3 separate regions of the Homo sapiens genome follow, and all the other regions are reported to be linked to region 3. Evidence: microRNA targets listed by miRTarBase, many of them from high-throughput screens and not tested one by one. Region 3 holds a microRNA gene; each other region holds the end of a gene's coding sequence. Distances are between the middles of the regions.
The links. The annotated mature microRNA hsa-miR-218-5p reads UUGUGCUUGAUCUAACCAUGU and lies in region 3 at 1,422-1,442, opposite strand. An mRNA with a match to its seed (bases 2 to 7 or 8) in the 3' UTR can be bound and repressed. Matches are read on the target gene's strand: a 7mer-m8 pairs with bases 2 to 8, a 7mer-A1 pairs with bases 2 to 7 and ends in A, and an 8mer does both.

Region 1 (3,361 bases), 55 Mb from region 3:
CGAAGAGCCTCTCTGTTTACTCAATTTTAGGAACACTCTTTTTGGAATTTAATTCATTCCTAAGGCAGAGAAGACAGGGAACAGTATACTAAACCTAAAAAATAAGCAAAAATATTATTTGTGTAAAAATTTTGGTTTTATTAATTGAGATACATTTCTGACTGAAAAATAATGAAATCATGTTGTTATTTTGAATTATAAGTATCAGGTATTCATCTGATTATGCCTAGGTTAATTTTCTTGCTTGTACTATTTATACTATTTAATATTTGGAAACTATTTTAAAATAAGCTTTTTTTTTGCTCAAATCTGCCTTTTCATTTTCTGAATTCAGAGCCACCTTAATAGCTTTTTAGAGTTTTCAGTGAAAAAATAAGAAGAAATTTCTACTTTTGGAAATTTTTAGACTTATGTATGTATTTTCACATCTTTAATATGATTTTCAAGGGATTATGAGTAGACAATGCTACTTGTATTTATAAGGTTTAAAATACTTAATTTGAATTAATCTCTTTTCAGATTCTCTGCAATGACTGTAATGGACGATCCACTGTTCAGTTTCATATATTAGGCATGAAATGTAAGATTTGTGAATCCTATAATACTGCTCAAGCTGGAGGACGTAGAATTTCACTGGATCAGCAATGACGAGCCTACACAGTACTGGAGAACTTGGCATTTTCTGATATAGAAAAAGGCTTTCCTTGGTATCGTGTTATCATGTGTCGTCATCTATGCATTAGAGTTGATGTGTTTTGTACTAGTGTCACAGCATAAAATCATATTACAAGTACGTAAGGATTCAGGGTCTCTTGATAGACTTATCATAGCTCTATATTGAATGAAAGCCACTGTGCTTGTGTTTTGATTGGAAATTCCTTTAGTGTCAGTTTTTTGGAAGCCAATGATGTTTGCCACTGATACATTCATAGAAGTGTATTATATTTTCATGAAGCTTTGCTTTAAGTGACACTACGCGTGCAGTTCATTTCTAGTTCTTGATAGAACTGCACTTAATTTTCAGTAGTAGTCTTGACTTTTTAAGGGCTGTGTTATATTAAGTTCTCCCTTACTGTTAAAACCTAATTAAATATGCTTTAGAATTTTCTAAGACAGTCCTCTGGATCCTCTAAATGTGAATTTTGATGTAATAACTGCTAATAAAATTATATTGAAACTGTTTTATAGAAAGTTTTTTCCAAAGTTTTCTATGTTTGGCTCAATTAGGGCAGTATCATCAGTTCTATAATGTAAAAGAAATTTTCTTTCTTTTGAGGTATTCCATAAAAGTAGTTGGGAAAATTATTATGTAAAATAATAAGACTCTTCCAAAGCCTTAATAAAAACATCAACATTGAAAACAGTTTTTTTTAGGTTGCCCAAAATTATTTCTTCAAAGAGTCATTCATTCCTTCATTTAGCAAGTATTTATTGAGCAACTGCTATGTGGCAGATATGTTTCTAGATGCTGTAGAGACAACAGTGAACAATAAAGATAAAAGTCCTTGTCCTCACAGCAGTACATTCTATTGTTCATCATATTTGATCAATGTACTCATTTTTCTTTATGCAAGGAGTGGATGTCTTATTGTAAATGAATAGAATATTTCTTCCCTAAGCGTGTGAAAATAGGGGATGGATGAGTGGGAAGGGCATGGGATATTCCTGGCAAGATCTCTGATTTCATAATACTTTTTTGGGCTCATGTAGTGGAATTAAATATACCTCTTACTTCAGGAACAAAGTTAACAAATATGTTTGATGATCCAGCCGACTTTGACACTGTTATCTCCGTAATAGCTTTACCATTAGGCTAGGATGTAAAATGTACATTTATCAGTTGATAAGTACCTATTGAGCACCAGTTGTATTTCCAACTTTGAGCTATTTGAATCTTCTTTGAATAAGGAAGTTAGCCTTTTAACTAGAAAGCCTAAGAGTTCTGGCACATTTATTTCTTCTTTTGTTGAAATTTATTCACCTAGATAAAGGCAGCAGTTTGGGACTCAGATCTTTATTTTATCCCACCTTCTTGTCTTCTGTATTCCACTCTTCTTATGTTCTTTCCCTTCATCTGTTTCCTTGGCCTGGCCAGAGCAGCAGTGCTGATCTTCATTTGGGAAAGGATGTTCCTGGGTATTACCAATTAGTATACAGATAAGTAAAGACTAGTTTTCCAGATCTAATACTTTTTTTTGAAGTGGTTTTGCTCTGTCATTTAGGCTAGAGTGTAGTGAAGTGATCGTAGCTCACTGCAGCCTTGACTTCCTGGGCTGAACTGATCCTTCCACCTCAGCCTCCTGAGTAGCTGGGACTACAGGTGTGTGCCACCATGCCCAGCTAATTTTTAATTGTTTTGTAGAAACAAAGTCCAGGCTGGTCTTGAACTCCTGGGCTCAAGCATTTCTCCTACCTCGGCCTTCCAAGGGCTAGGATTACAGGCATGAGCCACTGTGCTTGGTCCAGATGTATTACTTTTTATGTTTGGTATTATTCTGCCAAACCAATCATGTTATTGTTTTTAATCATTGAATCATTGGATCTTTAAATAGGAGTGAGTATATAATAATAAGGCTCTTCTGTTTTCAACATCTGTGCTGGGTCATGCATTAGCATTAATTACTACAATGATTCTGTGGGGTAAGTGTTGTCCTCATAGACAAGAAAGCTGAGGTTTAGAGGTTAAAATGACACATTGGGGGTAAATAACAGACACTATATGTTGGAGTTGGGAATCAGATCCAAGTTTGACTCCAAACCCACTTTTACCACATTGCTTTTGATCTAAACTTCTATTTTGCTAAAATACCCCTCACAGCTAGTCATCCATATCATTGAAGCGCTCATGATTTGATAGATTAACCTTTCATTTTTTTAGGTGACTCTAGTTAGAAAGTCTTATTTCACAATCTGATTGTTTCTTTAACTTAGGATCCAAACATGTCCAAAATAATGCAGAGTACATATGCAATCACTCGTTTATGCTGTCTAGTCATGCACTTAAAGCAATTTTCAAATGTACTCAAAGTCTCTAGGCTTCGGTACCCAGGGTTGCTTCAAGTATTTGTTCATGACACGTCAACTCGATGATTAAAATCCTTCAACACTTCTCATTCACAATAAGAATAAAATCTACATCCCTTACCATTCAGTATGCAAAACTTAAAATACATAACTTTACCCTTAAATATTTTTTCTTTCTCTGACTTCATAAGTATAGGTTATACCTCTATAAGAAAGAAGGTAAAAAACTCTCAACAATCCCTTCTTTCAGAGAGAACTACTGTTAACATTTTAACAGACAACTTCATTCTTTTCCTATTCTTTTTTATAATGCTTACAGGAATGTTAAATACTTAGA
Region 2 (3,000 bases), not on the chromosome of region 3:
TACAAACCTTACCCAGCCAGAAACCTTCGTATTTTAGATGGTAGGAAAGACATTCCTCATTTAGGCAAGTAGGGTTCTCATTCAACCTGCAAATCAAAAAGATTACTCTTACCTTGCTTTACAAAAAATTACTCTTTAATTAGTGAAAAAATTCAAATTCAAGCCTTACCTAATGCTTATTGCCCTTCCTTGCAGGTCTAAATGCTAGACCTAGTGACTGTGGCAACTATCTCTCATTGATGTTCCAAAAGGCGAAGAGCTCCTTCCTGCTAGACTTTCTTCGATATTTCAGTTGTAATAAGCAGATTTAACTAGCTTTTGGAAAGTTGCTCACTATCATCATAGTATCTTATGCCTTCACTTCTCTGTAGTTGAAGCTCTTGCTGCTGCCTTGTCATTCTTTATTTATGCTGACTTGTCCAAACACAAAAGGCTGCTGAAGTCCTGTCTTAGTGAGTTTCTGTGATCCACACTGTGCTTAAAAAGCACATCTTAGGTCCTTTAAAGGTGGTTAAATCGCTCTCCTCATGGCTTACTTTTCCACACTGTTCACAAGAGCTAAGCTAATACAACTTATAAACAGGTCACATACACAGATTTCACCTGCTTATAGGTTGTAAACATCAACTTACTGTAAATGTTTTCACTATAATACTAGTTCCAGAACATAGAAAGTTGGTTAACAGTACAATTAACCTCATGCCATTAAAGGATACTGTCAAGGTTGTGTCAAACAATTTCACAAACATAAAACAGGAAATGTTAATCTCCCCCATTCCTTTAAACTTTATTTATATGAATAAAAGAACTTGAGACAATTTAGCTCAATTTTAATGTTTCCCAAGCATTATTTTGACCAGGTACCCAGGTTTAAGTTATGAACATTGACAGTGTCCATTATATAACCACACTTGAAGTTATTTAGGACTTAACCATTTTCTAATATTAGCCTATTTTCTACACTGCTTTTCACATATATGCCCATTAACAAATGGAATGTCTGTTACATTTATTGGTTTGTGAATGTTTCTGGAAAACTGCAGTATGTGTGAAGACCAATTTCCATGCTGGCATTGCATGCATCCAAATATTAATGCACAGAGGCACAGAATTAGAGCAACAAGAGAGCATATTCAAACACTAGCACACCCCATTCCCCTTTTTATTGCTTGTTTGCTTAGTACTTCTTAAAACAAAAGACTTGAATTCAACGTTCAACTACCAAAGAGAGTAACAGCAGGGCACATACTCAGGGCTCGAATGAAACTGTAAGCACTAGCTGGAGCAAAACAGTAGACATTGGTTTATATTAATATATGTATATATGACCTTATTAACTAAAACTCTTCTCAACCAGGGCCTTCCAAACAAATTGGTAACAACATGATTTATGTTGAAATATACACAAGAAATAACAGTGTGTTCTTTGGGAATTTAAGAACTCAGACTATCCAAATTTGAATTCAGGTCTGTAGGAAGTGAGAAGCCTGTACTAAGCAACTGTGCTACATTTCTGCTGCAGTTAGGTTATTTTGGACAATTATACCTGAACTATCCTTGGTTTCATCCAGCAAAATGTATAGAATACAAACAGGAAAGCATGCCAGCCAGTTAGGGGTTTAATAACACATGATTTTTATTCTCTTGCTCTGAAAACTTGTATCAAAAAAAAGAATTTAAAGTAACTCAAGATTTATGGGCCTCTTGTGCTTTAAATAAGAAAAAAAAGGTACCCACTAATTTGCTCAGATATAGCAGGCTTAATGGTTCTATATTTTCAAAAGTTTTTAAGAATGGTTTCTAACGTAGGAGAGGGAAAACATCCACCATCCCTTTTCAGAATTTAAATGGAGGGCAGTAAACATTCTTTACACCCAAAACCTATGGCAGCAGTTCAAATTTGACCAAGGTAAATGTAGAATAGAGATGTTCTAAACACAGCTAGGACTCAGCAAGTCTAACACACTAAAATCATATGATTACATTTTAAAAGAAAATGCACAAAAACCAAATAGAAATTTTGAGATTTTTTTTCATTTGAAGGTAATCTTAATGCTATTAAATTCACAAATGCTAATTTAAATACCCAATCCTATTTATCTAAAACACACATTGCAAACACACAAATTATCTATTCTCTCCACATGTCAGCGCCCATTCATATCATGGTTTGGAAATGGGGAGAATAGATTCCCCTTAAACTGCAAGTCAGCAGGTGTTTCTTTACAGTTAACTTTAGCAAAATTCATACAAAATAGTAATTAACAATGATCTTCTTTACTTGTTAACTCACAAGGAAACACCTTCGAAACTGCATTTTGTTAAAGTTTCTGTACTAAAATGTAGAAAAACTGAACTACACAAATATTGAAAAGTTAAAAATTCCTTAATTTTTTATTCCTGGTACCACTACCACAATTTACAGGGCAATATACCTGATGTAATGAAAAGAAAAAGAAAAAGACAAAGCTACAACAGATAAAAGACCTCAGGAATGTACATCTAATTGACACTACATTGCATTAATCAATAGCTGCACTTTTTGCAAACTGTGGCTATGACAGTCCTGAACAAGAAGGGTTTCCTGTTTAAGCTGCAGTAACTTTTCTGACTATGGATCATCGTTCCTTCTGTGGCAGATTTTTACAGTTCCTCTAATGCATTTGGGACGACTGTCTCAAAGTAACCTGCAGCTTTCCTGACAACTCCTCGCTCTCTCTCCTGCTAAGAACTGTAGCCTGTTGAATAATACAGGATAAAAAAATTATTACACTCAGTGAACAGTTCCACATATTCTTTTATCATCATAATAAAAATTTAAAGATACCTACCCTTTTCTGCTGTTTTTAGAACCTTCTGCTACCATATCCACCACTTCCACCACCAGATCCATAACCACCTGAAAATATACATAGTATTTTAAAAGAAGTATGCACATTTTTTAAATTAAAAAGGCTCTAAAGAATTGATTTAAGAAAGTACTTACCACCATAGGGACTG
Region 3 (3,361 bases):
GGCAAACCATGCATGGGCATAGAATCTGTAAGTGCTCCAACAAACACCTTAGCACTTAGTATGTGCAAGGTCCTATGTTAAGGCTGTTAAGTGTAAATACCATCATATTCTGCCTTTTCAGCTTTTCTTGCATTGTTCAGAAAAAGCTATCCTTTCTACTTTAATACTTGATAACCACTGAATCCTTCTGCCCGTAAGTCAATGAAGTAGTAAATTAGGTAAGACAGACTCCTTGAATCTATTGATAGTTTACAGAGATTGAAAATGGAGGCTCTCAAACTACTTTATTTAGTTGCTATAAGAATTAAATACGTTAAAAACTAAGTACTTAGAAAACAAATTGGGAATAAATAATACCCAATAAATAAGCATCAAATAAATACCATTGTTATTAGTATGAAGTGCTTACTGAATTTTGAGAGATAAATTAGTTTCTGTACTTAATCGTATGGTTGGCTAGAAAGATGAATGAAGGTAGCCTCTAATATATTCTTGTACAAAATAGAGTTATGCCAATGTAATGCATATTAATTAAAATTAATGCAATTATTAATAATAAAAATGGCAAGACAAACATTCTTATGCTTTAATGCTTTCATTCCCTCCATCCCAACCAGAATTTTGTTGGGGGATGAACTTACAACTCTGCAGTGTACTGGGGAATGTGCTCCGGGATTTTGTTGAGCTTTTGATTAGAGCAATCTACTGTGGTTCCTTCACAGCGACACTTTTCAGGGCAAGCCAGATCCGCAAAGCAGTCTCCACTTAATTTTGATCGATAATCTTCTGTACCTATTGAGAATTCAAACCAAAAAAAAGATACTGAGTCTAAAGGTTAGAAAATTTATTAGTTTGTAGGAAGAAAAAAGTAAGATAACTATAGATTATGTAGCAGGGAGACAACTTGGGGTATTTTGGTCAATGGATGTCAGGAGAAAGGTTAAAAGAAAGGCTTGGAATTTTCTGGAAAAAAGAGTGACCAGATTCACATGACAGGAAAACATTAATAAAGTTGAGCTTTTCACAGCTGTACTTTCTGCTGATCCAATTCTGAGTCATTCTAGCCTACTTCACAGCTAGTCACACAATGGATATTAATTATTAAAAAGTTTATTTTTTTTCTCGGAGTCAAGAATTGAAAATATATCCAGTAATAAACATGATCCTATATCTCATTGTAAATTAGGGCTTTCAAGGCAAATAGATATACTCAGGCTTTTAAATTTTCTATGGACTTTTTACTATTCTCTCCCTCTCACATAATCTCGGAGATGCCTAAAAAGCCCTCTTTTTTCATTTTGATTTTGTAGAAAGAGACAGGAAAATCCTGATTTAAGCCTCAGCAGCTTGTCATGCTGTAGAAAGCTGCGTGACGTTCCATGGTGCTTGACGGAACCATGTTTTACTCATACCTCGCAACCACATGGTTAGATCAAGCACAACAGAAAATCTCGCTACATTATCACTACACCAACCACTAGGCCAAAGGTAAGACCAAGAGGAAAATGGAGGGAAGGAGGAGAAAAGCTACAGACGTTCTGGAAACGTAATACTGTTTACATGACATGCATTCTTCCCGCAGAATGTTTATGACCACAGTAAGAGTATTACTACCGATGATTTCCTGGAAACACAAAGAAGGGGCTATATGGAAAAGGTGCCTCCACCATTCCTCAGAACTGCAGAATGGAAACAACAGCTTTCGGGAACAACATCCAGGAAGAAGTTGAAGGTGAGCTACAAGGACAACAGAGAAGCTCAAAAGATCTGTGGTTTCTTCTTGAAAAAAAGGTGCCAAAGACCAAGACTAGAAGAAGGTACATCAGGATTGAAAAGGGAGGGTATTATGTTTCAGATCAGACACTTTTACTTACAGCCAAAATGGTGAATTCCTGCAAAAGTAAAGATCACCAAGAAGGAAAGAAAGAGTAATCCCAATTAAGATTAATATACATATTTATAAAACTAAGCTCTCTTCCTTCTTTCTTTATTATGGGAATTATTGAAAAAATAGCATGATGTGATGGGAATTGTCATGCTTTGTAAAATTTTATAAATAATATTTTGAAGCACGGTGGTCTCACAAGAAAACCAATGTAATAAAAGATGCATAGTGCAAATTAAGTTCTTGATTCCTTTAAAAGATGAACTCTCAAGGCCGGGTGTGGTGGCTCACGCCTGTAATACTAGCACTTCGGGAGGCCAAGGCGGGCGGATCACAAGGTCAGGAAGTCAAGACCATTTCACCTGACGGGTGAAAACCCATCTCCAGTAAAAATACAAAAAATTAGCTGGGCATGGTTGCGGGCGCCTGTAGTCCCAGCTACTCGGTGAGGCTGAGGCAGGAGAATGGCATGAACTCGGGAGGCGGAACTTGCAGTGAGCCGAGATCATGCCACTGCACTCCAGCCTGGGAGACAGCGAGACTCCATCTCCAAAAAAAAAAAGATGAACTCTCTGCAAGACAGATTTTCTTTTATCACTGTAATATGTAGAGTGCCATATAAAATGGTAGTAGCGAGGTACACACGTAAAAGTGAATGAAAAACTAATCATGGAGATCCTCAAGGACAATCATTACAACATTTGGATTAATCCTTATGTTGTGATGTACACTTTTTAATGAACTTTTCAACTTATAAATAATGTGTCTTAGTGGAAATGGAATCAGAATCTCATAAGAAGTTTGCGATGGTAAATATAATCGTTTCATTACATTTGGCAGTTAATGCCATGATATTTACTGAGGATCTGGTGTCTTATGATTTATGCTTCACTCCAAAATGAAATAAGAGTGCACAAAGTCTAAGTGACAGGTACACTGGATATCTTGCAATTCAAATAATCTGCATTCAACGGAACAGTAATAATGCTTATTTTATGGTGGCTTGTTAGGTGGACTCAAATTTTAATTAAAATTTTTGGAAAAAAGGGGAGGAAGCCCAAATGATCCTTTTGAGTCCTGGCTTCTACAATTATCATGTTTAAAGAATGTAAATTAAATTATCATAAATTGAAACTTAAGACATGATATTTGATATAAAAGATAATTTCCAAATCCTATTTTGGCTGCTGTCAGTAACAGGGAAAAACTATATCAGAATATATGAAAACAACCTGACTTTTGTTCTTTATTTAGTGAATTGGAAATATTAAACTTACCAATTATTAATTAAGTATATTTAAATGAAATAGTTTGAATAATTTGATACCAATTACATTACTGCCATAATTTTAGGATTTAAATCATATTAATGTTTTATTCTATAGGTAGTCTGGTGTTTAGAATATGGCTTTTTCTGGTTAAATAATAGCTATCAGATTACTTTCCACTTAATTGGGTAAAGTAATTAATATTAAA

Region 1: the mRNA of RCHY1 is a reported target of hsa-miR-218-5p. The part of its 3' UTR that is shown has no 7-base or 8-base seed match.
Region 2: the mRNA of HNRNPA3 is a reported target of hsa-miR-218-5p. Seed matches in the 3' UTR shown: 8mer at 1,705-1,712 and 7mer-m8 at 474-480.

The regions. Positions count from the first base shown.
Region 1 is chr4:75,479,825-75,483,185 of GRCh38, reverse strand. RCHY1 (ring finger and CHY zinc finger domain containing 1) reads left to right here. Exons shown (of 9, transcript NM_015436.4): 9 at 520-3,361. The coding sequence ends at 648. Among named protein-coding and RNA genes, the nearest start is that of RCHY1, 33 kb to the left of the region's middle.
Region 2 is chr2:177,219,146-177,222,145 of GRCh38, reverse strand. HNRNPA3 (heterogeneous nuclear ribonucleoprotein A3) reads right to left here. Exons shown (of 11, transcript NM_194247.4): 9 at 2,987-3,000; 10 at 2,832-2,899; 11 at 1-2,738. The coding sequence ends at 2,847. Among named protein-coding and RNA genes, the nearest start is that of HNRNPA3, 7.9 kb to the right of the region's middle.
Region 3 is chr4:20,526,380-20,529,740 of GRCh38, reverse strand. MIR218-1 (microRNA 218-1) reads right to left here and starts at 1,466; the gene lies at 1,357-1,466. SLIT2 (slit guidance ligand 2) reads right to left here. Exons shown (of 37, transcript NM_004787.4): 16 at 642-792.